Homo sapiens: one gene and its partners. The protein of the gene in region 1 interacts with the protein of each later gene in a pairwise test. Each region holds a gene or a part of one and is shown in the gene's direction. Other genes may lie near its edges. The genes, in order: CLEC7A, TMPRSS4, TMPRSS2 and SAR1A.

What was found.
Region 2: the proteins of CLEC7A (region 1) and TMPRSS4 interact in binary tests that used the Homo sapiens proteins (3 or more experiments, as listed by UniProt).
Region 3: the proteins of CLEC7A (region 1) and TMPRSS2 interact in binary tests that used the Homo sapiens proteins (3 or more experiments, as listed by UniProt).
Region 4: the proteins of CLEC7A (region 1) and SAR1A interact in binary tests that used the Homo sapiens proteins (3 or more experiments, as listed by UniProt).

The regions. Positions count from the first base shown.
Region 1 is NC_000012.12:10,116,277-10,120,235, reverse strand, and holds the end of CLEC7A (C-type lectin domain family 7 member A), read left to right. Parts: intron 1-1,645; coding exon 1,646-1,778; 3' UTR 1,779-3,459; downstream 3,460-3,959.
Region 2 is NC_000011.10:118,073,244-118,080,107, forward strand, and holds the start of TMPRSS4 (transmembrane protease serine 4), read left to right. Parts: upstream 1-3,834; 5' UTR 3,835-4,059; coding exon 4,060-4,062; intron 4,063-6,864. UniProt on the Homo sapiens protein: Plasma membrane-anchored serine protease that directly induces processing of pro-uPA/PLAU into the active form through proteolytic activity.
Region 3 is NC_000021.9:41,498,155-41,505,190, reverse strand, and holds part of TMPRSS2 (transmembrane protease serine 2), read left to right. Parts: intron 1-7,001; coding exon of another isoform or gene 7,002-7,036. UniProt on the Homo sapiens protein: Plasma membrane-anchored serine protease that cleaves at arginine residues. Participates in proteolytic cascades of relevance for the normal physiologic function of the prostate.
Region 4 is NC_000010.11:70,160,479-70,167,514, reverse strand, and holds part of SAR1A (small COPII coat GTPase SAR1A), read left to right. Parts: intron 1-4,755; exon of another isoform or gene 4,756-4,825; intron 4,826-5,583; 5' UTR 5,584-5,599; coding exon 5,600-5,657; intron 5,658-5,776; coding exon 5,777-5,896; intron 5,897-6,445; coding exon 6,446-6,511; intron 6,512-7,036. UniProt on the Homo sapiens protein: Small GTPase that cycles between an active GTP-bound and an inactive GDP-bound state and mainly functions in vesicle-mediated endoplasmic reticulum (ER) to Golgi transport.

The DNA.
Region 1 (3,959 bases):
CTGGAATCCCAGTTACATTCATTACAGACCCATTGACACCATCCTATATGTTTCTTTTGCTTTTTCCTGTGTTTTCATTCTTTTTTAGCTTTTTGCTCCAATCTATGTAATAACCTTTCACATATCTTCCGGTCATCTATTTTTTCTCATCTGTGGCTAATCTACCATTAAAAGCCTCTATTAAGTCTTTTATTTTGTTTGGTGACATTTTCAGTTTTATAATTTTAGTTTAGTTCTTTCTCAAATCTATTATTTCAACACGTATACTTCTACTTTTTCTTCCAACATTCTTAGTATTGTCTTCTAACTTTCAGAATACACTAACCATAGTTGTTTTAGCTTGTGTCTGATAATTCCAATTTTCTATATGTATCTGTTTCTGTTTGTTTTTTTTTTTACTATTTTTCTTTTGTGTTGATTAGTTTTCTCTTATGTCAGATTGCTTTTTATAGTGTTGTTAACATTTTATCTTAAAATCTTTGTAGAATTAATTTGAAGTGTTTTTTCATTTGCCTCTGTTCTCACCACCAGGTCTGTTCACCCAATAGTGTGAACAGTACAAACTGCTGAGCATAATCACTTAACTGTTTTACTTCTACTAGGCTAAGTACAGTGAATTTATTATCAGCCAAATGTATTTTCTACTTTCTTATAGTACTTGTTTGTCTTGAGTTTTCTCTTGCTATTTTAAATGTATGACTAGAGGACTCTTTCTATAATCACAAGTGGGCCCAAGTTAACATTTTGATATGTTACTACTTTTTTGTTTTCCGGGTGGCATTTATTTAATCTAGCTGTGTCTATGCCCCCAAAACACTTATAGGTCAAGGAAAATTTTTAAGGAATAATGCTGGTCAGAGTTCTCCCTGAGGTCTGAATCTAAGTAGTTAATCTTAGCCTTAGTCATCGCTAAAGCAAAGTTTTCTCAATCTTCCAACCTCAGGGTCAAGAGGGAGAGATACATAACCAGGACAAAGAGTGCCAAGTCATAGCTTTTGCACTGACGGTCAGTGATGCTCTTTGAGCTTGACTCATTAACACTGCTACTTAAGGAGATTGAAGACCAAACTGAACAGGACCATGCCTGCATTTAGCAGTGTTGATTTCCATAACTGTCAAGCATTGTATTGTAATATAATTCTGCTTCCAGGATACATTAAAATATACAGAGTTGTTTGCCCTGCCTTTAAATGGCCTGGGCATCTCTGATTCTCTTTTTAGTTCTAGATCTGTTTTAGCATTAATGCTTCTGCTTGGTCTACTCATTAAGTATATCCAGTAATAATTTAATTAAACTGTTACTTGATTTGATAAAGAAACATTTAAGTAATAGGCTGAAAGATATATAAAGAACTTTTTATAGAATATTAAATGATTTTTCTTCTTTGTCAGGAACTTTTTTTTTAGTTTATGCAGCTAGTAGCAGTTCTTGAAAAAAAATTAAGTCGTTTTTCTGCCTTAATAATGGAGACTATTCATTTAACCACTTGAGATTCACAACAATTTAGATTTAAGCCTCCTTTTCCAATAATAGAAACACTTCAGAACTCTTTTCACCAATATCCTTACTAATTTATTTGTGCGCCATGTAGACAGTATTCCTTAACATTTGTTCTAATTACCTCACTGTATTCTATTTTAACAGATTTCAGATCAGAACCACAGCTACCCAAGAAAACCCATCTCCAAATTGTGTATGGATTCACGTGTCAGTCATTTATGACCAACTGTGTAGTGTGCCCTCATATAGTATTTGTGAGAAGAAGTTTTCAATGTAAGAGGAAGGGTGGAGAAGGAGAGAGAAATATGTGAGGTAGTAAGGAGGACAGAAAACAGAACAGAAAAGAGTAACAGCTGAGGTCAAGATAAATGCAGAAAATGTTTAGAGAGCTTGGCCAACTGTAATCTTAACCAAGAAATTGAAGGGAGAGGCTGTGATTTCTGTATTTGTCGACCTACAGGTAGGCTAGTATTATTTTTCTAGTTAGTAGATCCCTAGACATGGAATCAGGGCAGCCAAGCTTGAGTTTTTATTTTTTATTTATTTATTTTTTTGAGATAGGGTCTCACTTTGTTACCCAGGCTGGAGTGCAGTGGCACAATCTCGACTCACTGCAGCTATCTCTCGCCTCAGCCCCTCAAGTAGCTGGGACTACAGGTGCATGCCACCATGCCAGGCTAATTTTTGGTGTTTTTTGTAGAGACTGGGTTTTGCCATGTTGACCAAGCTGGTCTCTAACTCCTGGGCTTAAGTGATCTGCCCGCCTTGGCCTCCCAAAGTGCTGGGATTACAGATGTGAGCCACCACACCTGGCCCCAAGCTTGAATTTTCATTCTGCCATTGACTTGGCATTTACCTTGGGTAAGCCATAAGCGAATCTTAATTTCTGGCTCTATCAGAGTTGTTTCATGCTCAACAATGCCATTGAAGTGCACGGTGTGTTGCCACGATTTGACCCTCAACTTCTAGCAGTATATCAGTTATGAACTGAGGGTGAAATATATTTCTGAATAGCTAAATGAAGAAATGGGAAAAAATCTTCACCACAGTCAGAGCAATTTTATTATTTTCATCAGTATGATCATAATTATGATTATCATCTTAGTAAAAAGCAGGAACTCCTACTTTTTCTTTATCAATTAAATAGCTCAGAGAGTACATCTGCCATATCTCTAATAGAATCTTTTTTTTTTTTTTTTTTTTTGAGACAGAGTTTCGCTCTTGTTGCCCAGGCTGGAGTGCAACGGCACGATCTCGGCTCACCGCAACCTCCGCCCCCTGGGTTCAAGCAATTCTCCTGCCTCAGCCTCCCAAGTAGCTGGGATTACAGTCAGGCACCACCACACCCGGCTAATTTTGTATTTTTTTAGTAGAGACAGGGTTTCTCCATGTCGGTCAGGGTAGTCCCGAACTCCTGACCTCAAGTGATCTGCCTGCCTCGGCCTCCCAAGTGCTGGGATTACAGGCGTGAGCCACTGCACCCAGCCTAGAATCTTGTATAATATGTAATTGTAGGGAAACTGCTCTCATAGGAAAGTTTTCTGCTTTTTAAATACAAAAATACATAAAAATACATAAAATCTGATGATGAATATAAAAAAGTAACCAACCTCATTGGAACAAGTATTAACATTTTGGAATATGTTTTATTAGTTTTGTGATGTACTGTTTTACAATTTTTACCATTTTTTTCAGTAATTACTGTAAAATGGTATTATTGGAATGAAACTATATTTCCTCATGTGCTGATTTGTCTTATTTTTTTCATACTTTCCCACTGGTGCTATTTTTATTTCCAATGGATATTTCTGTATTACTAGGGAGGCATTTACAGTCCTCTAATGTTGATTAATATGTGAAAAGAAATTGTACCAATTTTACTAAATTATGCAGTTTAAAATGGATGATTTTATGTTATGTGGATTTCATTTCAATAAAAAAAAACTCTTATCAAAAAACCCATGGCCTCTAAATTATGTGCCTGTGTGTCACAATCACTATTACAATTTGCCCTCTCCCCAAAAATGATGATGAATTTGGTATGGGTGGAGTGGATATTTATAGTAGATATTTTGATATTAAAGCATTAATTCGCGATCTTAAAAATTTTAAAAACCTAAGAGAAGATAAAGATCTTTGTGAGGTTTACTATTGTTGTTTAATATGCAAATTTGTTTTCATTACTTAAAAACATGTAGAAAGGGAAGAGATAGATAGGTGCAGCAAACCACCATGGCACATATATACCTATGTAACAAATCTGCACGTTCTGCACGTGTATCCCAGAACTTAAAGTACAATTAAAAATACATACATAAATAAATAAATGATGTAATGTATAATAAACATAAAAAAAGAAAGGGAAGAGATAGATCAGGCTGAGAACATGAGGAGTATGGTTAACTGTTTTAAGTAGTTAAAGCATAGGATGGAGTTTGGAAGAGATATCTAGTATTTT
Region 2 (6,864 bases), on another chromosome or scaffold:
ATCTCTTAATCTTCATAACAACCCTATGAGGTCAGAAGTATTGTTATCCCCACTTTACAGATGAAGAAGATGGCGTGCAAGAGGATTAAATAAGATGCCCATGGTTACGCAAATCATTAGTGGCTGAGATTAGGAGGCAGGACCCCAGGCCACTAGAGCTCAAGCTCTTGACCAGGGAGGATTCAGGTTTTGAGAGGCCTGAAGCTTATGCATTTTGAGGGGCTTGGTTTTTTTCAAAAAGCAACAGACTCTTTAATGTGGTTTAAAATACATCCAGATCAAGTCCCCGGCTGTTGTGAATGCCGAAAAGAGACAAAAAAGCTGCCGGTGCAGCTTCAAACAAGTCTGAGCGTCAGGCTGGCCCATAAGGAAAGCAGTTGCAGGGACAGGAGGCAGCCCCCTCCTCCAGGAAGGGCAACAGGAGCAGCCGGGTGCCTGCCTGTCCCTGGGGTGACCGCCTCTGTGCTGTGCAAGGCGGGAGGGCTGTGGCAATAGGCCTTGGACCTCCCCCATGGACACCAGCGAGTTCCCCTGGCCTCTGGGTCAGCCCTCAGCAGCGCCGCCATGATGGGGTGGAGGAGGGTTAAATAACCATCTTTACAGAAATAATATTCTCCTGCAGAACGTGTCTGAGCTCAGACCATTGTCCAGAAACCTCATAGAAAACAAACAACAAAGTTTTTTAAAGTGCTGCTGACACCTCTCAGAATCTGGTGTGCATAGAGCTCTCAGCTGGACGAGACCTGTTGGTCCTTAAACTGAGGTCACCTGTATGGGACCAGCCTGGGTGAGGAAGGCTCTGGCCTTCACTCACAGGGATAGGCCACTTCTTGAGGGGCTTTCTTGAAGAAAAAGCACGTCAAAGAAATATTCAGCAAAATTTACAAAAACGTATGATTGTGTGAACATATTGCCGGGCCCTTTCCCAGGGCCCTGGAAGGAACCGTGCAAGTGAGGGGCTCTGAAGCTTCAGCTTCAGGAGTTTCATGATAACTCTGCCTCGGATCTTGACACACATGCTGGAAACAGATAAGGAAAGGGAAGAAGGAAGAGAAAAAAATGTCAAAAATAAAGAGGAAGAGATAAAAGAGAAGTAATGGGAGGGAAAGAAGAGAGGAAAAACAGGAGGAGGATCTAAAGAGATGGATGGGCAAGAGAAAGAAGCAGGCAGGACAGGGCTGAGGGAGAGCTGAGGCTTCCTCCGGGAGAATGGGGGTTCTGGGCCGGGTGCGGTGGCTCACACTTGTAGTCCCAGCACTTTGGGAAACCAGAGCGAGTGGATCGCTTGAGCTCAGGGGTTTGAGACCAGCCTTGTCAACATGGTGAAACCCTGTATCTACAAAAAATACAAAAATAAGCCAGGCATAGTGGCTCACACCTGTAATCCCAGCTACTTGGGGGACTGAGGCGGGGGAATCCCTTGAGCTCAGGAGGTGGAGGTTACAGTGAGCTGAGGCTGCACCACTGCACTCCAGCCTGGGCAACAGAGGGGGACCCTGTCTCAGAAAAAAAAAAAAAAAAAGAATGTGGGTTCTGGTCCAGCTGGTTTTCCCTGGCACCTGGGAGAGGTGGGCCTCTGTTGTCTCCAGGCCACTGTGCCTCCCTCTGTAAACCTTCACCCCCACCTGCAGGCATCACAGCCACCCTGCCCAGTCCTGCTTATGTGCCTTCTTCCCGGACCTCTCCACAAACTCCCAGACCCAAATGGGAGCAGAAGCCAGGAGGGCTGAGTCATCATCCCTCCAACCAGCCATGCCCAGCAGCCTTCATGCCCAGACAGCTGCCTCTTTCCTGGTTCATCACCTGAGCACCAGGTAAAGCAATGCAAACCTGTGGGCCAGATGTTTAGCCTGGCACATAGAGGAACCAAGACAACTGAAAACGTGGCTCCCAGTGGCCCACTGGCTTCTCACTGCCCTGCTGCTGGGGAGGTGCCTGCCTGGACCATCACGGCCCTGACCCTGAGGTCACCTGAGATCACAGGCTCTTGCCTCTGCCCAAGACTTCCAACTCTCAAGGCCACCAGCCATCAGTAAGGAAGGGCTGGGGCTGTGCTGGCTCCAGAGCCCTGCAGGCCAGCTTCAGATCTCTGCTGCTCAGAGACAAGTCCAAGGCCACACTGCATTCATCAGCTGAGATTTGGCCAATAATCCATTACACAGATCCGGTATTCCTCCTGCTCAGACATCACTGGGGTCCTCCATGGGCCATATTATCCCAAACCATGAACCTGGGGCTTTCAAACACTTGTGTTCCATTCAGCCTGTTCACAAGCCTGGCAGTGTGAACCAGTAAGAGAACCAGGTTCCAGCCCCAACTCTGCCCGAAACTACTTCATGTCCATAGGCTATAGTTTCCTCAGCTGACAAATGGGAACAAAATATTGGGGTTGTTGTTGGAGAATTAAAGGGCTGATACACAGAAGCACGTTATCAACAGAAGGACAAATACACACGTCTAACCCAGGCTGGTCTCCTGGGAGGGTCAGGTCTGAGAAATGGAAGGAGATCTGGATTCATATGGAACCAGACACTAATTCATTATGTGACTTTGGGTCATTGACTTTGCCTCTCTGGAATTTAGTTTTGTCGCCCACAGAATGGGGGAACAATGTGGACAATTATCCAAGTCTCTCCCAGCAAAATATCTGTGGCTGTAAGGTTTCACCTTGCACATCCCCTGGCCAGGGGGCAGCTCCAGCTATCAGGATGTGGCAGAACGTGAATCAGAAATGATCCTGTGGGGCTGGGTGCGGTGGCTCACGCCATAATCACAGCACTTTGGGAGGCTGAGGCAGGTGGATCAGTTGAAGCCAGGTGTTTGAGACCAGCCTGGCCAACATGGCAAAACCCCATCTCTACTAAAAATACAAATTAGCCAGGCATGGTGGCGCACAACACCTGTAATCCCAGCAGCTACTTGGGAGGCTGAGGCAGGAGAATCACTTGAACCTGGGAGGTGGAGGTTGCAGTGAGCCAAGATCGCGCCACTGCACTCCAGCCTGGGCAACAGAGACTCTGTCTCAAAATAAAATAAAATACAAAAACACAAAACTTAGCTGGGTGTGGTGGCAGGTGGCTGTAGTCCCAGCTACTCGAGAGGCTGGAGCACGAGAATTGCTTGAACCTAGGAGGCGGAGGTTGCAGTGAGCTGAGATTGCGCCCCTGCACTCCAGCCTGGGGGACAGAGAGAGACCCTGTCTTAAAAAAAGAAAAGAAAAAAAGAAAGAAAGAAAGAAGGAAATGACTCCGTGGACGAGGAGACGTGGGCTCTAGCCAGAGCACCAATAGTGATTTTCAGAATATTGAACGGCTGCTGAGGCAGGGGCAGGAAGCACTAGTACATTGGCTCTGTGCAGGACAGCTTCACTTCTGGGATCCAGGGAAAGGGGGTACATCTTACCTCCCTAAGAGAAGAAACTCCCTCCTTCTCTGTGGACTTTCCAATCCTATTGCTCCACACCTGGCAATGATCTCTTTGTACTGAGCTGCAAACCCTGTCGCCCAACCCCCAGACCACTCCAACTTCCCACAACCCCAAACCAAAGCACCCACACAGTGAGAAGTCATGCACCTAGAAGGTAGGGGGAGGGGGGGCGGAAACTTCTGGCATCACCCTCAGCCAACACCCAGTTGGGTGGAAGTCATTCAGGCGGGAAGGCTTTTGTTACGCCTTAGGTGTGTCACCTGTTCTGAGGCCGAAGGTCCCATGAATGACTTCAGGTGTTGTTCCAGCCCCTAAGATAGGTGTCAGGTTACAAGACACATAATCATTCCAGTTTGGCAACTTCACTTGTAGGGCTGTTTTAATCAAGCTGCCCAAAGTCCCCCAATCACTCCTGGAATACACAGAGAGAGGCAGCAGCTTGCTCAGCGGACAAGGATGCTGGGCGTGAGGGACCAAGGCCTGCCCTGCACTCGGGCCTCCTCCAGCCAGTGCTGACCAGGGACTTCTGACCTGCTGGCCAGCCAGGACCTGTGTGGGGAGGCCCTCCTGCTGCCTTGGGGTGACAATCTCAGCTCCAGGCTACAGGGAGACCGGGAGGATCACAGAGCCAGCATGGTGAGTGTGGGGCCCTCTGCTCCCAAGACACAGGAAGGGTGGGTCTCCCCATGTAAGGCCCTTCAAGCAGCCTGAGCATCCATCAGCTGAGAATTCTGTGACACCTTCTAGGTTAAAAAAAGAGGCCACACCCAAATCCCCTCACACCCCAGCCCGGTACACGTCTCATACCCACCTGCCTTCCTCTCTTCCTCCATTGCCATGGTCCTTGGACCAGCTCACCTAAGAAGCTGAGCACAGAGCCAGGGCTGTCCTTCCCGACTATTCTTTCCTGAATCCTGCATGTTCTTTTGCCCAATGTCTCCAGGTCTGTTGGTTAGAGGTTGGCACTATTTTTCCAAGGCAGGGGGCTGTTCTGATGCCACGGTTGCCCTCTGCCACTCCCTGGGGAAACTGATTCCTTTTCTTTTTAAAGAAAAGTGTAGACTGGGTGCAGTGGCTCACGCCTGTAGTCCCAGCACTTTGCGAGGCTGAGGCAGACAGATCTCTCGAGGTCAGGAGTTTGAGACCAGCCTGGCCAGTATGGTGAAACCCCATCCGTACTAAAAATACAAAAAATTAGCCAGGCGTGGTGGCAGGTGCCTGTAATCCCAGCTACTTGGGAGGCTGAGGCAGGAGAATCGCTTGAACTTGGGAGGCGGAGGTTGTGGTGAGCCAAGATTGTGCCATTGCACTCCAACCTGGGCAACAAGAGTGAAACTCCGTCTCAAAAAAAAAAAAAAAAAAAAAAAAAAAAAAAGAAAGAAGGAAAAGAAAACAGTGCAGAGATGCCTCCAAACAATCTAGGGTGTTTGTGGTCATCTTTTACTTGGTCTCTTTTCATGCCCTCACCCTCTCTCCTCCTCCTCTGAATACCTGGAGCGTCTTCGCTGTCTTGGGGCAAAGAGAATCAACCCTATCTTTCAAGGAGGACAGCTGAGGGCCAGGGAGGGGAAGAGATAATAACTGGGTCTGAGGAGGAACCCAGGGGTCTTCCTTCTCCAGTCCTTGGCCAAGAGGCAGCAATTGCCCAGCCACCAAAGTGAAAGGGAAGGGAAGAGAGGAAAGGAGAAGCCACTGTCCAAGGGGGAAGGGTGTGACCTGCAGGGGCCCCTCGAGTGATTGTCTCCTATTCCCAACCTGAGCACTTCCCACGACACTCTTCTGAAAATTCTGGCAAGAACAATTCTTAGTGCGGTTGTAGCTGATGATCAGAAAGGGGAAGGGGCTTCCCTTTGAGCCAGGATCAAAGCACAAGCTTCCTGCTTTCCCATCCAAGGAGGCGCCCCAAAGTTTGGCCTGTGTGCAGAGACGCTGTATCCCCTGGGGCTCCCAGGAGAGGAGAGCAGCTGTGGAGTCTACCTAGCTGTGAGCTGCTTCTGGGTGGCAGGCACTGAGGAGACCTGGGGTGTCTCTTGGGGGAGCAACAGAGAAGGGAATCATTTCTAGGGCAGGTCACTAACTGCAGAATCAGAAGGCTGAGGCCAGCTCCCTGATTAGCTGTGCTGTCTTGAGGCATTCATCTTCCCGAGACTCACCTTCTCCCCTGCCCACGGAAACGATATGACCCACAACAGCCCCACGCACATGCACCGGGTTCGCAGAGATTACACAGCTAATACATGTGAGTAGGTTCTGGAAACCATGAAGCCCCGCACAGATGTAAGGACTTAGGACTAAAGAGGAGTCTGTGCTAGGAAATGACAGCTGGGTAGTACACCCAACACAGACCCTTTGCCACCAGGGAAGGAGCTGGGCATTGCTGGAGGAGCGGGGGAGGGCAGGTGGGAACACTGGTGGAGGGGTCAGGTCAGGCCTGGGGCCCCAAAGGCAAGGCAGCAGCATGGCCAATCTCCACGGTGTGGTCAAGGAAGTTTCTAGCCCCGGAGCTAGCCATTATACTGCCTGTGCTGAATAACCCTGTCATTAAGCCTGTGCTTAATAACCCTTGACAGCCATAGCTCCCAGCCCTGAGGGGAGGATGGGATCTCCACACCCAGGCTCAGCCCTCCCTTCCCTTCCCTTCCATTCCCTACCTCCTTCCATCCCCACAGGCCCCTTTCTGTGACAGTCAGGGTCCTTTGAGCTGCTGCGTCTTAATGACAGCTCTCCCAAGAACCCATTAAGCTGGGTATTCCTAGGGAGAGCTGGAGCAGGGACTCAGGCCCAGGCAGAGGTCAGAGCCCAAGCCCTGTCCCCGAAGGAAATGTGTCCCATGCTAACTACTCCATAGCTGAGGCCTGGAGGGAAGTCAGGGACCCTGGGACTGGTTATCCTGGCCTTGACTCATTACTGTTCCGGAGACCTAAACGCACCCTGAGCCACCAGACGTGGGTGTTAACACCTGAGGTCAACCCCCTGACGCTTCCGGCTGCTCTGGAGGAAGCTGGTCCTCCCTCCCACCTCCTGTTTTCCGTGCCAGCCTGGTACAGAGTCAAGGGGCTTGGCTGGGCTTGGCTGGGCTCAGAAACGTGGCAGTCAGGAGCCAGCCTGCGGGCAGCGGGGTGCTGGGAGCACTGCAGGGTCCACCCTGACTGGGGCACAGAATCCAGAAGCCCACTCGGCCCTGGCAGTGCCATCCTAGGCTCTGAGGTGGTAAACTGAGCTGGGCAGTGGGAAGGTCCTAAAGGGCAAGACAGGCAAGGAGGGGCTGCTTGCTTTGCCTGCTCTCCTGGATCCTTTGCCACCTGGGTGACAGGGCCTGGTGTCACTGTAACCACTCCCCCCCCACCAAAAGAAGCTCCAGCCAGACACCATTTAATCAGCCCCTTTCATTGGCCAGCCTCTAAATGGGGCTGGGGATTGGGAGGACCCAATACCTAG
Region 3 (7,036 bases), on another chromosome or scaffold:
GATCTAAGCCTTGGACATTGAGGTAGAAAGGAAAGGTGAATGGTCAATGGAGTGCTTGTTCAGTTTTGGTTGCTGAAGACTTGGAAAGTGGCCTTGCTAGTGGGGAGAGTGAGGGCAGGGAGAGCTCCCTGTGGGGAACCAGAGAGCCCAGGAGCATTGAAGGCCCAGGTGCATTTCTGCTCTCTGGTCCCTCCTGCTCTGCACTCCCTGAGTGTCCCTCATCCCACAGTCACCAGGCCTTTGCTACTCTTCCCCGCCCCTCCTTACTTTCCAGGACACCTGCCAGGGGATCCTCCAATATGGGATGCACTGCGTGGCCTCAGGATTGGGGTGCAGGAGCATTATGTACCTGAGAGCTGAGGCCTGTATGGAGTCAGCCTTTGTGGGGCCCCTCCTGGCCCTAAGGGTGATTTGGGAAGCCCTGACTTGCAAGCACCAGGGGTATGGGCCTGGGTGTGAAGAAGGGGGCTTATGATGTCCCCATGGCCATTGACCACCTTGGCCCCACCGAGCCTGTGGACACCCAAGGAGGAGCAAAAGGGGGATCTGTGACAGGGTAGCAGCTTGGTTGAGCACACAGGCAGCTCTTCAGCATGACCTAGAACAGAGGCTGGGCTCCAGGAGGAGGCAGAGCCTGATCTGGGACTTGGTTATTCCTGGTTGCTGAGCAATGGTCAGGAGAGAGGAACTGAATGAGTGGAAATGCGCTGGTTGGGAGTCGAGGCTGGTTTTCTGGCAGGGGTGTGGGTGGTTACTTTTGTTGTAAACAGAGTGAAGTTTGAGAGGGCAGGAAACTCGAAGACAGGCTTTTCATCCTCCTGGAGGTGAGTCTGGGAGAGGGAGGTGAGGGCTCTGACATCTATGTGTGGATGGCGCTGAGCCATTGGGCATCCATGGCAGGAGGGCAGGAGGAGTTTAGGGCACAGAGTTGTGGTAAGAAAGCAGGAAGTGTTTGAAGGGCACCTTGGCTTGTGGTTGTGGCAGCAGAAGTCTGGAAGTTCACTCAAGGGCAGACTAGGTGGAAAAATCGGGGCTGTCAAGTGGGACTCAGAATGAGAGGTTGTGACAATTGGATTTGTTAGAAAAATATTTTCAAGCGAGGTCTGACTTGGCAGATGGAACTAAGCTGAGGCTTTTTATTATTGCTTGTTTGTACGAGGTGCACAATGCAGTGTCAAATTCCCTTTAAGGCCATTGCTTTCCAAGGGGCTGTCCTGGCGGGGCACTCAGCCTGACCCCACTGCAGTATAGCCCAGGGGTCATGGGAGACCATGCTTTCTAGGGACGATGGGCTTGGAGTTCTTTGTGCAAGATACTGATAACAGAGAATTTGCTGACATTTTCAAGTTCACTGGTGATGATGCATTTATAAGGAGTTGGGAGTAATATGAAAGATCACTATGTCTGGTCTTGATGCTCAAGCCTAATTCTGTTCTGGAATATGTTGGAGAAATGATCCTCCAGTCTTGAAACATACATTTTTAGGTTTGAGGAATTCGGTACATTCTAAGGTAGCTCCAGGCCATATGTGAACTTTCTAATTGTTGGAACCTTGATTTCCCCAGATAGAATCCAAGCCTGCTCTTCTGGAAATTCTGATCATGATTCTGGTATTGTCCTTTGGATGTATGCAGAATAAACTGAATTCCTTTTCCACATAGCCGGCTCTTACGTGTTGGAAGATAAACCTTATCTGCCATCATTATGTTATTATTGAGTGCTCACCATGGGTTGGGCACTGAGCTACGGCCTTGCTTTCTCACTTAATCCCTGCAACAACCCTATTTCTGTATCATCCCCATTTTACAGATTGACTTGGACAAGTTCTTTAAGCCTCAGCCAGTGGCTTGTGTGTGGTGTTGAAGTCTCCGCCTGGAGTGACCTGAGGGCCTCTGCCGCCTGCCTGCCTGTCATGCCAGGTTGCACTCAGCTTGAGGCACCTGGACTCCTGGGAGGTCACCCACTGTCCTGACTTGGGCTGCTGGTGTTGTCTGGGTGTGGGCATCTTATCGCCCTCTGCTAAATTTCATCTTACTCATTTGGCCTTTGGAACTCAAAAAATATATATTTTTTCCTGCAAATTGCATTGTATTTCAAATTTACATTTCCGATCGTCTGTTGTTGGTATATAAAAACACATAGATTTTTATATTGATCTTGTATCCCTCAACTTTGCCAAACATGCTTATTAATTTTTCCCCAATAGTTTTTGGGGTACAGGTGGTAAGAACTCCATAAAAACATTTAAATACTGTCTTTGTAAGCTACAAAGTGAGATTTAAAAAACAAACAGAAAGAGAGAGAACCAGACCTGATATCTGCCCTAAAAAGTTTGTAATCTCTTTGGGACAATGAGTCATTCACAGGAAAAGAAACTTGGATGATGCAGGCAATACCTCTCCTAAGGTGATCTTTCTGTTTCTCGCTCAACCTTTCTCTCTCAGTAGAACTCTTGTGCCAATCATTGTGTATGCAATTTACCTGATTATACATAAACAAGTTTCTGCTGAACAGCCACTGAAATCCACTGTTGGCTAACTCATTTAGTCATGCATTCTATCCTTAGGAGGATAGAACATCTCGTTGTATAATGTGATATTAGTGCGGTTATTTTGGCATAAAGGGCTCTTTTTGATGATTTGGTCATTGGCTGGGATGTGTCCGTGGATGGTGGTGGTGGTGCTGTCTGGATTTTGAAGAAGGGGCACTGAGTCTGAGGCTGTCTGTTCCCTCTCACACCTCCAGCAACTCGAACCGTACCAGTCACAGGTGGGGGCTTCGAGAAGGAGAAGGTGTGTGCACAATGGTGCACGGTGAGGTCAGTGGAGACTTCATTGCAGAGAATACCCCTGGATCTTGGGTGGGAGTCAGTGTCTACAAGCCTAACTTCATTCGCGTTGGCTTGGTTGTTTGGAAAGTAAGTCTCCAGTAAACGTGTCCTGAGATCTCCAGAGGAGAGAAACTAGGAGAAAAGATTCTTGTTTTGGCAGTAACTTCATCATGTCATGGGATGCGGATACGATGCCACAGCATCGTCCTGCTGCATGGTGGCCAGGCAGGTGACTCATGGGCTGACTCAGCTCTCAGTCCAGGATGGACCAAAACAGTGCGAGGACAGCTGTGTGCCATTGTGAGATTCAAGTGGGTGACACTGTCTGTATTGAAGGAAGAGCTCCCTGCCAGCCAGGAATGGAGCCTGAGTGCCACCCACTGTTGCTCTTTCACACTTAAAGGAAAATTTCCCCAAGTGCTCATGGTGGCTGGCTTTCCAGAATTGAGAGCCATCATCCCGGTCCTTTAAATGACAGGAGCAAGCATTCGCTAAACAGCATTGTCTCTCGCCATCTACTTTACGTCTTGCTCCTTTCAGAAATGAGTTAATGCGATGTACAAGCTTGTGTGAATGAGGAAATGCCTGTTTTGAAGATGAACAGGACTGAATGTGATTTCCTGGTCTTTTCGGGACAGCAGTGCTTCCCCTTGCAGATCTAATGTCAGAGCGGGACATTCCCCCCCTTGTTTTATTTTCAATTGGAGAATGTTGTTGTTGTTTCTTTTTTTTTTTTTTTTTTTTTTTTTTTTGAGACAGAGTCTCTCTCTGTCACCCAGGCTGGAGTGCAGTGGCCTAATCTTGGCTGACTGCAACCTCTGCCTCCCAGGTTCAAGTGATTCTCCTGCCTCAGCCTCCCAAGTAGCTGGGATTACAGGCACCCACCATCATACCCAGCTAATTTTTGTATTTTTAGTAGAGATGGGGTTTCACTATGTTGGCCAGGCTGGTCTTGAACTCCTGACCTCAGGTGATCTGCCCGCCTTGGCCTCCCAAAGTGCTGGAATTATAGGCAGGAGCCGCCGTGCCCGGCCCAGCTGGAGAATGTTACTGGCAGCATCACTCTGGTCTTCCATTCCAAAGTCCATGGTAACTGACTTGGGCACACGGAATATTTTTGTTTATCATGTTCTGATTGCTGGAAGAGATAGGATTATCCTGTGACTGCCTCTGGGTCCCATGGCTTTTATTTGACAATTAATGGTGGTGGCTCCCGGTGTTCCTTCCTTCCCTGGCTTCCTTGTTAGGGATCGTGAATGAATAGCAAGTGTGGGTTTTGAGTATTGATTCTTCACTCCTTTCAGAGGGCTTCTGAGCTGGGAGAGCTGCCAATGGGATCGAATTTTCACTTCCTGAAACTTCAACCAAACCTGTAACTGGGGAGATAGGACAGCCGAGAAACCAGAGGCATGAGGATGTGTTTGGTTAGGCAGGACTCTTTGAAAGCAATCTTAGGATGGTACTGAGTTCTGTCCTGCTTATGAGACAAGAATGCGGGATTTATTGTGTTGTCAAGCCTGAGGATCCTCTCTCTTCACAAAGCAGACATAGGCAAGGTCTGTTAAGATGTGGCTAAAAGGCTTAAACGTTTTTGATACATTTTAAATGGTGATCCTTCCCACCTGTACATTAGTCACTTTCCTTTCCTTATACCCAGGAAGGTGTGAACTTTAGTTTTAATCCTAGAAAAAGTCCCAAAGCTACAACATGACCTGGTTCTTGTATTTTTATCTGTAATTGAAGAGTAAATAAATGATTGGTGCATGTTTGTTGTAACCTGTTGGGTGAGGTTTCTCGAGACTAAAAAGCCATATACTCATTTTCATTCATGGCAGGCTGTTGGGGTTTTATAGTTTAATGATTCAGCAACCAGTTCTGCTTAGGACACAGGAAAGCGATGGTGTACTGAAGCCGGCCCCACTCTACTTGGCTCCGTGGTGGGCTTCATGTTGGTAGCCTGGGAATACTTACCGAAGGCAAACCTGCGAATCAAGACAGCCCTCTTTTCCTTCAGCAGGTTGTTAAATGTTTATCAGCTTTATAATTCCTCTTATTTAATGGAAAGTTATATAGCACTCATTTTATGCTAAGCATGAAGCACTTCATTAGTATTAACTCATGGAATGCCCTGGAGGTAGGTGTTACTATTATCTGCATTTGCAGATGGGGAAACTGAGGCACAGAACCTTCAATAGCTTCCTCCAGGTCATGGAGAGTGAGTGGCTGAGCCTGAGTTTGGATCTAGAGTCTAGTCTCAGAGGTCAGGGGCTGAACCGCTGCCCAGTGCTGCCTGCTGCTGTTTGAGCACCTGCTTTGTGCCAGCAACTGGGAAATATTCTTCTGTGGCCATGTCACAGACAGTGGACACTGGTCTGGCCAGGTCCGAAGCCCAGAGCCTCCTCCAGGTTCTTGTTCCCTCATTGGGAACATGGTCTTGTGGACGGATAATCTTGAACCCCGTTTCTTAAAATATTCTTTGGTCATTTAAAGCCAAGCGGGAAGGGGTGGAAAAAAGCCCTTTATTTGCTCAGGAAGGTGCATGTTAAAGAAAAAAAAATCGTCCAATGAGACTTGTTAAAATGGTGAAGCGAACTTTATTCAGGACCACGGAGGCAGGTACAGGGACCACAGCCAGCAGATTTTGCAGTGGGAAGAAGAGACTGGGATCCGCTTGAGTACAGTATGGGCAAGTGGGAGTTAATTTATAACCAAGGATCAGGGTGGGGTTGGTGGGTGGAAAAATCACAAAGAGAAAACATCAAGGGTAAGGGGGATTCTGGCTAAACCAACCAAACAGGATTCTTGCTGAAGACAGGCTGGGTGATCAGACATCACCTGTGGCACGGTGGAGGCTGAGGAACCCGATCAGATATCCAGAGTGATCAGATACCGAGGGTGGGAGGTTCTGGCTAAACTGACTGAGCAAGGTTTTTTGCTAAAACTGGATTTTACAAGGAAATGCACAGATGGCCTAGAAGGTTCAGGAGCTTGATATAAGTTTGATCAAGCGAAGAATCTTTGTCCATGGAGAGTGATGTCAGAATGCGGCTTTACTATACAGCATTTCGTGTTGACGGCATCTCTAGCTATTATTGTTAACTGTTCACAAAGGACAACAAGCAAAATGGCCCACAGCTTTCTTTTCATTACTGCTAATCTTAGCAGTGGTCAAAATGGTTGGCTCTGAATTTCTTTCTTTTTTGGGTTTGGGGTAGTAAATGGAGTGACTGTGGACATGTTTTATGGATTATTTTAAGCGTATGTATCTATTAAAAATTGAGAGGGCCCACATGGCCTGCTTTAAAAAGTCAACTGTGAGCTGTATTTGGTGCTGAGCCCTGAACCACCCGCTGGGCAGTGGGTGGCTACTGGCAGTGCCTGTGGACGTTCTCGGGGAAAGACGGTCTGATTGCACCTGCTCTTCCTCAGTTCCTAGTACTGTGAGGCACTCTTTCCCCACTCTCCCACAACCCTCAGCTTAACACAACTGTGGTGATTGCTTTGTCCGTTTTCCCATGAGGACCCTGAGATTTCAACAAGGTTCAGTAACTCACACATCGACACTTCCAGGGAGCTGTGTTGCCAGGAACTGGCCCAGGTCTTTCCCTCCTGGGCCCATCTTGTCCTTAATCTCTGCTGACATTGATGGGTTTAGTTACCTTGTCGTGTTTCTTCAGTGTTTTATGCCATACAGTCTCCCTTGAGTAGATGTTCTGTATAGGGGATATCACAGCTTCCTGGTGAGAACTGGGTTAAGTCCAGCAGGATGCCTGGGCTTAGTGGCACTGGAGTTGTGGGTGGCCTTGAGCCCCAGGCAGTCCCCTGAGAGCCCTTCCCGATGGATGTTTGAGTCACTGAGTGTGTTCCTTCTTCTTTCTGGTCAGGCTGTCCTGGCCGCTGCACTTACAATTGCACCCCATCCTCCTACCCACTCTGATCCCAGAGGAGAGTGCTTCTGCTGTAACCTCTAAGGCACAAGTGGGTCCCAAAGTCCTTAAATATGGAGGGATGTGGGGAAGCAGTGGTGAAGATGCAGGCCAAAGGTCAGCAGGCAACACTGGTCTTTGTTGTAGGTAACCTTCATCTAGAGATTCTTCTAGTTCTTTCCAGATTTATCTTCTAAAAACTAACTGGTATGGAAATATTACAGTCCTGTAATTCTTTCTTCTAGGTCATATTGAACATTCCAGATACCTATCATTACTC
Region 4 (7,036 bases), on another chromosome or scaffold:
TCTCCTGCCTCAGCCTTCTGCATAGCTGGGATTACAAGCAAGCGCTGCCGCGCCCAGCTGTTCATTTTATTCTTCATCTGGCATTCTTTGAATGTAAGGGGATTTTTTTGTGGGTAATGCTTTTACTGGTTACTGTTCATGAAAATTTTGAATGCAGTTGGTCATATCTAGTATAAAGCCCTGTGTTCAGATGCTCCTGCTGATGGAGAGGAGTAAAAGTGTGGACCTTCCATTTTTCTGCACCGCATCTGAGATACTAAAGCAAAAATTCAGCATGGCCAGACAATGCTGAGAAACCTTAAGACCCACCAGTGTGTCTAGATCCTACCCTCTTAATTTCATTCAGAGGTCATTTTGCTTATTACCAATATATGTAAACCTTTTAGTAGCTTTTGATAGCTATGAGAAACAATAGAAAAAGTAGTGTTAATATCAGTACCAGTTAAGTTATTTACTGGCTTGGGAACTTACTGCTATATCCTGAAAAGTATTCTTTTTTTGCTTTTTTGTTTCTTGAGACAGGGTCTTGCTCTGCCACCCAGGCTGGGGTGCAGTGACACAATCATAGCTCACGGCAGCCTCAAATTCCTGGGCTCAAGCAATCCTCTTGCCTCAGCCTCCCAAGTAGCTGGAACTACAAGCACGTGCCACCATGCCTGACTAATTTTAATTTTTTTTTTTTTTTTTTGTAGAGATGCAGGTCTCTCTATGTTACCCAGGCTGGTCTTGAACTCCTGAGGTCAGGGAGGAATCCCCCACCTCAGCCTTGCAAAATGCTGGGATTACAGGTGTGAGCCACGGGGGCCCGGCCTGAATAAGTATTCTTATTTTAAGAAAATCTATTTGTAAAATGAGTTTGGGTGTGATTATTCATGTATGAAAAGATTCTCTTCTTATCCCTTAATGGTTCTCTAAAATAGTGATGTCATTTCTTTTTATAAATTGAGACCCGTGTCTGCAAAAATGATTAAATATTGAGATAACATTGGTAAATGGAGCAGGGCAAGTGGTGCTGGCCAGTAGAATTTTGGGTGACTTTTGTTTTTTAGAGTTGTTTACAGGATAGATTAATATGTTTTTCATTCAAATCAATGTGCTTTTCATTCTTATTTTCTATTTAGTGCATCTAAGTGGCATTCTGATTCACATTATTGATAAGACTGATTTCCTAGAGTTGTTCTTCACTGGATGACAGCAGTCGTATGTCTAGGGAATGTGAATGAACCGCTGCCTGGAGGAGTAAGTCACACAGTAAAAGAAAGTGTAGGCATACCTCGGATATACTGTGAGTTTAGTTCCAGACTACTGAAATAAAACAAGTACAGTAAAGCAAGTAACACGAATATTTTGGTTTCCTAGTGCACATAAAAGTTACGTTTACACTATACTGTAGTCTGTTAAGTGTACAGTAGCATTACGTCTTAGAAAATACGTACCTTATTTAAAAAATACTTTATGGCTAAAAAATGCTAACAAGCATCGGAGCCTTCTGCGAGTCATAACCTCTTTGCTGGTTGGGGATCTTACCTCCATGTTACTCCACGTTGATAGCTGTTGACTGATCAGGTTGATGATTGCTAAAGGTTGGGATGGCTGTGGCAGTTTCTTAAAATAAGACAACAAGGAAGTTTGTTGCATCAGTTAATGCTTGTTTTCAAGAAAGATTTCTCTGTAGCATGCAATGCTGTTTGATAGCATTTTACCCAAAGCAGAATTTATTTCAAAATTGGAACCAGTCCTCTTAAACCCTGCTGCTGCTCAAGTAAGTTTATGTAAACTCAAGTAAGTTTTTGTAATTTTCTAAATTGTTGGTGTCATTTCAACAGTATTCATAGCATCTTCACCAGGACTAGATTCCATCTCAAAAAAACCACTTTTTTTGCTTATCCATAAGAAGCATCTCTTTATCCATTAGTTTGATCATGAAATTACAGCAGTTGTCACATCTTCAGGCTCTACTTCTAATTCTAGTTCTCTTGCTGTTTCTACCACATCTAAGGTTACTTCTTCCTCCAAAGTCTCGAACCCCTCAAAGTTTTCCACGAGGGTTGGAATCACTGTCTTCCTAACTCCTGTTAATATTGATATTTTGACCTCTTCCCGTGAATCATAACTGTTCTTACTGGTACCTAGAATGGTGACTCCTTTCCAGGAGGTTTTCAGTTTACTTTGCCCAGATCCAGCAGAGAAATCAGTCTATGGCATTGATGGCTTTGTGAAATATATTTCTTTTTTTTTTTTTTTTTTTTTGAGACGGAGTCTCGCTCTGTCGCCCAGGCTGGAGTGCAGTGGCGGGATCTCGGCTCACTGCAAGCTCCGCCTCCCGGGTTCACGCCATTCTCCTGCCTCAGCCTCCCAAGTAGCTGGGACCACAGGCGCCCGCCACTACGCCCGGCTAATTTTTTGTATTTTTAGTAGAGACGGGGTTTCACCGTTTTAGCCGGGATGGTCTCGATCTCCTGACCTCGTGATCCGCCCGCCTCGGCCTCCCAAAGGAAATATATTTCTTAAATGAAAGACTGGCAAATCGAAAATACTCCTTGATCCATGGGAAGCAGAATGGATGTTGTTAGTAGACATTAAAACAACATTAACTTCTTTCTGCACCTCCATCAAAGCCCATGGGTGACCAGGTGCGTTGTCAATGAGCAGTAATATCTTCAAATCTTTTTTTCTGAGCAATAGGTCTTCACAGTGGGCTTAAAATACTTAGTAAACCATGCTGTAAACAGATGTGTGGTAGGCAGAGTAGATTTAGTATAATTCTTTTTTTAATTGTAATTTTTTTAATTGGAAAACAAATACACAACTTGGAATGGATTTGAGGCAAATTGTGCCATAAGCACATTTTCTTTAAGTGGCTAAACAAAGTTTAAAAAGCAAGTAACAGTAAAAGAAAATGTTTCTGGTACAGGACCAGCAGTACAGAAAAAACAGTGTGTGAGGTACCTGGGAGTACCTGGATAATACACCCATTCTGCAGTAGTGCAACTTTTAAGTACATATTGTTGGCTGTCCGTAGTCCACACAGAGTTACAACTCCATACTTCAACACCATGCTGACAGTTCCTAAAGAAAACTACTTTAAAAAAAGGCATAACCCGGATGTTCCCTTATTTGACCAACTCCACCTAAGTTTAGATGTGCAGAAGGGCTTAGATATATCCGGAGTAAGCCACAGGCAACATGTTACTTCATCAGTTTTCTAAAATAAGGTTTCAGGGCAATGACAGTAAGGGAAGAACACATGGAGGAATGAAGTCCTGATTACCATACATGCATATTTTTTTTTGACAGTAGGGAGAAGCCTTTTACAGATAAGTTACAAACAAAAGGCAAATAAACAGTTTTGTGCAAGAAATTTAACACATTCTGTACAAGGTCTTCATTATGCTGTCATCATTTGTACAAACTCATAGTTTACTTGACCATCACCATCAGGATCTGCTTCCCTGATCATTTAATCAACTTCTTCATCTGTTAACTTCACTCCAAGGTTTGTCATCACATGGTGAAGTTCTACACCACTAATATAGCCATTGCCATCCTTATCAAACACACAGAATGTTTCTCTAATTTCTTCTTCACTGTCTGTGTCTTTCATTTTTCTTGCCATCATTGTCAGAAATTCAGGGAAGTCAATTGTGCCATTACCATCAGCATCTACTTCATTAATCATGTCCTGTAACTCTGCTTCTGTGGGATTCTGCCTGAGACCTCATTACAGTTCCTAGTTTCTTTGTTGTTATAGTTCCATCACCATCTTTGTCAAATAGTGAAAAAACTTCTTTGAATTCTACAATCTGCTCCTCAGTCAGTTGGTCAGCCATGCTGCAAGTGCTACTGGTTTCCGAGACGCAACCACACAACCACTCTGCTCGCTCACTTGCTCCACTTGGACTGATTTAGTGTCATTCTTCAGGGCCCTAGGATTTTCAAAATGGTAAATGAGTATGGGTCCTAGGATTTTCAGAATGGTAAATGAGTATGGGTCCTAGGATTTTCAGAATGGTAAATGAATATTGGCCTCAACGTAAAGTCACCTTGCATTAGCCCATAACAAGAGAGTCAGCTTGCCCCTTGAAGCTTTGAAGCCAAGCAATGACATCTCCCCTCTAGCTATGAAAGTCCTAGATGGCTTTTCAAATAGAAGGCTGTTTTGCCTACATTGAAAATGTGTTGTTTAGTGTAGCCACCCACCTTCATCAGTTATCTTGCTGCAGCTTCTACATCAGCACTTGCTTTTTTACCTCGTGTTTTTATTTTATTATTATTTTTTATCAGCAATAAGGCTGTTTCATTTTCTTGACGTTCATGGGTTTGCTGGAGTAGCACTTTTAATTTTCTTCAAGAACTTTTCCTTTGCATTTGCAATTTGGGTAACTGTTGAGTGCAAGAGGCCTAGCTTCTGGCTTATCTCAGGTTTTGATGTGTCTTCGTCACTAAGCTTAATCATTTCTAACTTTTGCTTTCAAGGGAGAGACCTGTTACTTTCACTTGGAGAATAGGGAGGCTTGGGGTGGGGGCAGGACTGTGGAGGAAGTCAAGTTTGCTGTCTTCTATGGTTGTGGTTTGTGGCACAACAAAACAATTATACTAGTAATACCAAAGATCACTGATCATAGATCATGATGACAGATATAAGAATAATGAAAAAGTTTGAAATATTGTGTGAGAATTACCAAAATGTAACATAGAGACATGAAGGGAGCACATGCTGTTAGAAGATGGTACTGATACACTTACTCAACTCAGGGCTGCTTCCAACCTTCAATTTGTAAAAAAACCAGAAAACCTCAGGATCCACAAAGTATCATCAAATGAGGTATGCCTTTATATTTTTAACTCCTAGTTCTCTGAGTATCATAGATCAAAAACTATTAGGAAACAAGTTATTTTTGCACATATAAGGATTCTAGACTCTCCTCCAGATTGCAAAATCTGTGTCAAGAAAGAATATTAGTTTCTCTTTACTTTGCTTCCTCCCCTCCCCTTCCATCCCCTCCTCCCCTTCCCCTCCTCCCCTCCCCCTCCTCCCCTGCCCCGCCTCCCCTCCCCTCTCTTTTCTTTTCTTTTCCTTTCCTTTCCTTTCCCTTTCCCTTTCCCTTTCCCTTTCCTTTTCCCTTTCCCTTTCCCTTTCCCTTCCCTTTCCTTTCTCCTGTCCTGTCCTGTCTTTTTTATCAGAGTCTCCCTCTGTTGCCCAAGTGAGTGCAGTGGCACCGTCATGCCTCACTGCAGCCTCAAACCCCTGGGTTCAAGTAATTCTTCTGTCTCACCCTCCTGAGTAGCTGGGACTCTTGGTGTGTGTCATTATGTCCAGCTATTTTTTTAGTTATTTGTAGAGATTGAGTCCAGCTTTCTTGCCCAGGCCAGTTGTGAACTCCTGGGCTCAAGTGATCCGCCTGCCTTGGCTTTCCCAAATGCTGGGATTCCAGGTGTGAGCCACCATGCCTGGCCTGCTTTCTTATTCCCGAAAACAAGAGACTATAAATGTGCATCATGGCTAGGGAACAAGAGTTAACCTCTCCACAATTGTACTGTCATTCAGAAAGCTAATGTTTGCTACTTTCATATTTTATACAGGTAGTAAGCATTAATAATGTCTTTCATCTTTGAGTGGATCTACAATGGCTTCAGCAGTGTGCTCCAGTTCCTAGGTAAAGCCATTTCCTTGAAATACAGGTTTCAAAGTTTGTGCCTTTCCCTCAGTAATTTAACTACAAATAGGCTTTGGTCTGTAGAGAGCAAATGTGTTAACAATTTTTTTCTCTTTTAGGACTGTACAAGAAATCTGGAAAACTTGTATTCTTAGGTTTGGATAATGCAGGCAAAACCACTCTTCTTCACATGCTCAAAGATGACAGATTGGGCCAACATGTTCCAACACTACATCCGAGTAGGTTTGAAAATATCAGGTGACCTTTTGATCTTTAAAGGTCAGTGTTAGGCGTGGAGGATGAATCCCTAGTTGGTGGAGTTCTTTTATTAACTGAAGTCCCAAAAGCCAACTCATACGAGAAAGTTCCCTGTAAGACACACTCAGGTTATGTACTTTCAGATCTAAACCTCTGGAACTTTGTCATTATCTGTTGTCACTGGTCCTGTAAAGGGACACCTCTCCTATACCTACTTCTAAGAAGTGGAAAATAGCTTGGAAGAAAAGAAACCTTTGGCTTTTAGAATAGTTTAAGAACATTTCACCCTTGTATTCCTTTTCTTTGTTGGGAGTGGGGCGTTGCCTGGGCTGGTCTCAAAAATCCTGGGCTCAGATTATCCTCCTGCCCTCAGCCTCCTGAGTAGCTGGAACTACAGGCGGGTACCACCACACTCAACTTCTTGTATCTTTTTCTTTACAAGATGAAAGCATTGATATTGGCTTATAGTACTAGTAGTTGGGGGTTGTTGAGTTGACAAGTTTTTTTCTTCTTTTTAAACAATTTTTCAGCATCAGAAGAGCTAACAATTGCTGGAATGACCTTTACAACTTTTGATCTTGGTGGGCACGAGCAAGGTAAGTGATGACTCAGTGGAAAGCATGTTTATTGACTTATTTTTTTTGTGCCTCCCAGCTCCTTTTAAAAGCAGTGTGTCATTTTTACCTTTTAAATTACTTACATTTTAGAATTAGGATCTTATTACTTTAGTGAAGTTGTTTTATTCATTTATTTTTTTAAGTAATTTCAAACTTGTCAAAAGTTGCATTAAATAATACACAGAAGTCCCCTTCAATATTACCCTATTGAGCTGGGATAAAGTTAGCCATAATGTATAACTATTCATGAACTTTTAAGTATTTGCCTGATATAGCCAAACTCAACTCAAATCTTGACTGAAAATTTTTACAAAGCAGGACAGCATCTTGCCATTTTAATCTTTACTACATTTTTACTTATTAATGTAATTTACCTTGTAACTGGAAAATATGTTAAAAGATATATGTATTGCTTCAACAAGAGTAATTATTTCATCATTTTAACTAGGCTTGCCCTAAGCCAGTATATTTTCTTCTATACCTTTTGCTCAAATTTGTTAGTCT